Linked DNA regions of Homo sapiens: region 2 is linked to region 1. Evidence: fine-mapped expression QTL. Tissue or cell type: whole blood. Region 1 holds a variant in brackets; the other region holds the start of a gene. All regions are shown on one strand. Distances are between the middles of the regions.

The links. PIP is the estimated chance that this variant, and not a neighbour inherited with it, causes the effect.
Region 2: RERE starts here. The variant in region 1 is fine-mapped to the expression of RERE in whole blood (TOPMed, PIP above 0.99).

Annotation. Positions count from the first base shown.
Region 1 is chr1:8,423,564-8,426,319 of GRCh38, reverse strand. All of the region lies in intron 11 of RERE (arginine-glutamic acid dipeptide repeats), which reads left to right. RERE-AS1 (RERE antisense RNA 1) reads right to left here and starts at 1,675. Exons shown (of 4, transcript NR_125999.1): 1 at 1,619-1,675. RefSeq lists silencers at 2,086-2,225, 2,536-2,756. The variant T/C (reference allele first, on the strand shown) is at 1,557.
Region 2 is chr1:8,816,486-8,818,985 of GRCh38, reverse strand. It overlaps RERE (arginine-glutamic acid dipeptide repeats), which reads left to right and starts at 1,346. Exons shown (of 23, transcript NM_001042681.2): 1 at 1,346-1,826. RefSeq lists silencers at 809-1,038, 1,139-1,438, 1,689-1,748 and an enhancer at 1,102-1,396.

The sequences.
Region 1 (2,756 bases):
ACCATGCCCAGCTAATTTTTTGTATTTTTAGTAGAGACGGGGTTTCACTGTGTTAGCCAGGATGGTCTCGATCTCCTGGCCTTGTGGTCTGCCCGCCTCAGCCTCCCAAAGTGCTAGGATTACAGGCATGAGCCACCGCGCCCGGCTGAAAGACACTTCTTAGGAAGAATACTGAGGACTTTATGATTTGACATTGGACCCGAGAAGAGGAAAGTACAGACTCATAGAAAATGGTAACAGAAAATAGTTACCACTGTAGACGCCTGCCTGCATTTTACAGAGTGTGGCTCTGAGGATTTGAGGGGGCTTAAGTTTGAATTCTGGCTTTGTCTCTGAGGAGTTGATCTAGTTACCTATCTGTGCCTCAGCTTCCTTGTCTGTAAAATGGGGATAATAATTGTACTTCTTCTTAGGTTGTAAAGATTTCGAATTAATATATATGAGGCTCCTGGCATATAGTAGGTACTTAGTAACTATTGGTTGAATGGATGATGTTCAAAGGATTGCATCACAATAAATGGAAGAAACAGGATCTGAATTTGTTTGTCCAACTCTGCCACCTTACCCTGATGTTCCAGAGTCAGCCTTTCTCACATGCTGCCTTTATTGTGTAGGCCTCTTTTACTGGACCTGTTAGATGTCACTTGGTATCAAGCCCACGTTCCGATTGCATGGTCCTGGCGTTCCACAGCCTGGCTCACTCCAGATTGCCCGCCCCAAGTCTGTGTAGACTGTCCCCTGTAACCCACCTCCCATTCTCCACCTCTGACCTTCACGGAGGGCCCGGTCACCAAGCCACCTCCCACCCCTGCAATAGTTGCCCACCCCTTGTGATCTCGCTGATGTCACTGCCTTGGCGAAGGCATTCTGAACTACTACAGACCACTGCAGTCTAGCCTTCTTGGGTCCCTTGCTGCACTGATGAGCTGCACCTCACTTCTTTATGCTTGGCCAGATGACATCTCAGAATGTTCTGTAATGACTTCACACATACTTATCTTACGTGCAAAAATGAATCACAGTTCAGTAAAGGTCCATGGCAACCTTTATTATCTTCCTAGACCCCTCTCAGCTAGGTGCTCAGTAAATACCTGAATACTTGAAGAATGGATTAAGCGGCAGGAATTCTGATTACTGAGGTGGAGTGTGCCAGTAGTTGAGGTCCTCATCTCATACCTGAACTGTGTCAGCAGCCTCTTTAACTGGTCTGTCCCTAATCTACACTTAGGCCACACTGCCACTGGCACAGTCCTCATCCAGTCTTTTCATGGAAAGCTCCAGCTTCAGCCTTTCTGCCAGCCTACAATTAGGAACTCTTCCGTGCGGCCTGAAGGGCTCTCTGCAACCGGATCCTTGCCTGCCTCTTTCGTCTTATCTGCTGGCACTCCATTCTGCACACCCTGTCCTCCTTGCAGTTCCCAGAATGTTCCCTGTGCCTTTTCCTGGCTGACTTCTGCTGGAAGCCCTGCTGGAGCCCACCTGGCAGGCTCACACTCTTCCTTGTCACTTCCTCTAAGACATCAGCAAGCAGAGTAAGTTGCTTCCTCTTCCTAGCT[T/C]CACCCACCACCCTTTGTTCCTCTGCTGCTTTTCTTGCAGGCCCTAGGACTGGTTTGTTTACCTGTCTGCCTTCCTGGGCAGACTGCAGCTCCTTGAGGGCAGGGCCATCTTTCCGTGCCGTCTCTCCCGGTGATATGCTGTGTGCACACAGCGTAGGATGCCTGTTGATCATATAAACGATACTTTTGTCAAGTAACAAAGGTCACTCCTCACACTAGAGGAGAGCTTGCTGCTTTCTTGTGCCTTGAGAGATTTTCCCTTCGAACTGTATGAATTATATTGAAAATTGACAATGATGAGTCATATCTCAGCAAGGGTGAAATTCAAAAACGCAAAGCCTCCACTACTGGAGTAGGAGGTTGCAGACTGGTCTTAAAAGGCTAAGTCTGGCCCTTCACTGAATCCGCCTGGCGGGTCTCAAACACAGGGAGTGGGAGGGACCCTCTGCCCGGTGGGCAGGTGATTTATTGGCTGGGAAGCTTCCGCGGTGATTTAGTTGTGAAGCGGCGGCCGGGGAAGTGCAGGCTAATGCCTGGGCCGCCAGGGAGAGGCCGCCCACAATCGCGGGCCGGAAGGGACCGCGGGGGGCGTCGGGGCCAGCCCCCCGTTTCGCAGCTGAGGCGGGGTTGGGGCGGAGGGCGTGCGGCCGGGGCGCAGCCGACTTCGTCCATCCGGAACGTGGGCTGGAGACCCAGCAGCCTGGGAAGGGCCCCAGCCCTGTGGGCGCCCTCTCCCCACGCTTGCTGCGGTAGGGAGGAAGTTTCTGTGCTTTACCGCCTTGATGTTCTCCTGTCCGGAAGGAGGACACAGATTCCAGCGCCGGGTGCCCTGGAGGCTCCGGCCTCGGGGTGGGGGTCGGGCCGGGGGCGGGGCCGGGGCCGGGGCGCGGGGCCCCGGCTGGCGGACAGGAGGGCGGCGGCAATCCAGGCCGCCTTTTGCAGCCGCCCGCGGCCGCGCCGGGCTCTGCGCGCCGCGCTCCTGCCTCCTCCCCCGTCAGCGGCGGCCCCAGCCCCGCGCCCCCCGGGCCCCGCGCCGCGCGGCCCCGCCGCGGTCACACGCCGAGCCACCCGCGGCCGCCTCCGCCCTGCGCTTTGTGGAGCCGGAGCCCAGTGACAGGCGACGGCCTCTTGCCGCCCCGGACCCCGGGCGCTTACCTGTGGCTGCTGGGGTCGGCCGCCCGGGACCAGGCTGGGAGCCCC
Region 2 (2,500 bases), 390 kb before region 1:
GGAGGTGGCGGTGAGCCGAGATCGCGCCATTGCACTCCAGCCTGGGCAACAAGAGTGAAACTCCCTCTCAGAAAAAAAAAAAAAATGAATAATTCAATGTGGAAATTATAATCTGAATAGATTTTCCAAGGAGAAAATTATCACTTCTTTTGAAACAGATGAGTGAATTATTTTGTGCTACGTTTTCTACCCCTTATTTTATACGGACCTTAACTCCTTCGGGAAGAGTGTATGGTATAAGGACACCAATAAGCATTTACAGAATATTAACAAACCAACAATAGGTTGATGATTCACCCTGGATTCGTGCCAGGCTCTGTGAAAGAACTCAATAAACATGATGTGCATTTCAAAAACTGCTAATCATAATTGAAATTTCCAAACCCCTCAATCCCATAAATTATATGAACTAGAATATGATCATTTGGCCTGCCCCTACTCCCTTTACAGCATGATAGACCCTGTGATTATCAGGCTTTCGGGAAGTGGGACACAATACTTCATTCTTCAAAGAAAAAGAGGTGATGTTTGGTCTTTTCCTCTTTTTAGATTTTTTTTCACACGTACCTTATAGAGTTGTACACTGCTCTTTCTAAAATCCCTTCTGTACCTGTACAGTCTCTCCTTTATGCCTTCATGACACTTTTTATTCTTTTCAAATAAGCAGTGCGACTTATCACTTTTATTTTTCTTTCTGTAATTCATCTTTTGTCATGTACACTATTTGAAAAATATTACAAGCCGCTCATCAGAATTTCGAAAGAGTCCATATGAGAATGGTTTACACCCACTCTGTAGCCCGCAGCAACATGGATCCGCGTCCTAATGACTGAAAAGGCCAATTAAGACCCGGGTAACAGCAAGATCAACCGGACTTCCCCCCACCCCACCCGGGACCTGCCCGCGCCGCCAGCCCGGCCCAGCCCGGGGGGCGCGGGGGGCGGTACTGGAGCGCGGCGGGCGGCGGAGGAGGGCCGGCCTCGCACTCTCACAAAGACGCGCCCGCGGCGGGAGCCCAGCCCACCGCCTCTGGCCGCCGCCTGCAGCGCGAGCCCTCGAGCCCCGGGCCGCGGCGTTGTCAAGGCTCGGCCTCTCTCCGCCTTCTTCTCTGCTCATTTTATTAAAAAGATTAAAAAAAAAAAAAAAAAAAAAAAAAAAAGGAAAAAGAGATCCCGCCTCCTCCGCCTCCCATTGGCCGGGCCCCCGGCCGCGTCACACCGCGCTGTACCAATGGAGGGGCGCGATACTGCGAGGTGGGCCGGGCCCGAGCGGGGAGTGGGCGGCGGGTCGGTGCAGCAGCTCCGCCGCGGCTCCGCCACCATCGCGGAGGTGCCGCTGTTCCCACAGACGCTCGCGAGCAACCCTCCGCGCTCCGGAGCCTCCTCAGCCTCCCGCACACCCCGAGACGCTCGCCCCGCTGGGCCTCGGTCCCCGCCTCCTCCCCCGTCCTTTTCCCCTCTCTCGCTCCCCACATTGTCTCTGCCTCATTTTCTCTCCTAGTTGAGGATTAAAAAAAAAAAAAAATCACCATCATCCTCAGGGAGCCCCCTCGCCCTCGGAAAACAAAACCAGACATGATCCTGGGCTCCTGCTTCTGAAAGATCTGCCCGACCGAGGAGGAGGGAGCCTAGGTTCAAGTCGCAGGAAAGGTCACGGCAGGGAAGCCCCCTCAGCCCCTCCGCGTCGCCTCCCCGCGGGCCGCCCCTCTCGGCCCTGCGCCCCGCGGCCCCGCAGCCTCCGCGCGGCCTCCCGCCCCATCCCCGCCACTTTCCCCGGAGCTGGGCCGCGAACACCTCACTATTGATGGTGTAGCGCTTTAGGGGAAGGTAAGTGTCCAACTTGCCCGCGCCGGGTCGTGTGCTTTCTTTTTTGGCCCCTCGTCCTGGTGGTCAGAGAGGGTCGGCCGTGAAAGCAGTCACTCGCCCGGGGGGAGGCAGGAAGAAAAGGCTGGGGTCGAAGCCGAAGTCGAGGGGAGTCGGGCGAGGGCAGGGCACTTCTTTGGTCCTGTCCGGGCCAGGTGACCGTTCCTGCGTGCCTTCTGACCCCTGCTCTCTCTTGGCCTCTTATTCATGCTCTTGTTCTACTTGTTTGAGGTTAAACTATTTCATGTGACTACATTATTGGCTGAAACTGGAAGGGAAGGAAGTCAAGGACTGAAACTGTAAATTTCTTGAATGTTTGTGGATTTCGGGGTGCTGGGGGGAGGACTTTATTATTAAAGTATCATTTTCTCATTGGGGGAAGATTTCCTCTTTGTGCTCCCAATCTCTAGTTCTCAGCTGTATGTGATTAGAAAATTATGAAACCCAAAGTCACTTGCAGCAGAATAGAATTCTTACTATCCTGTTTTAGTTCTGCTCTCTGAAGGAGGGTGGCTTCTATTTATTACTAATTTTTAAGATGATGGAAAGATTCGTAGTTTTACATACACGTGTGTATGTGTGTCTGCTAGGAGGGGGGAAAAGTGTTGCAGGCTTCCTTTGAAACTGGTTGCTTGAGA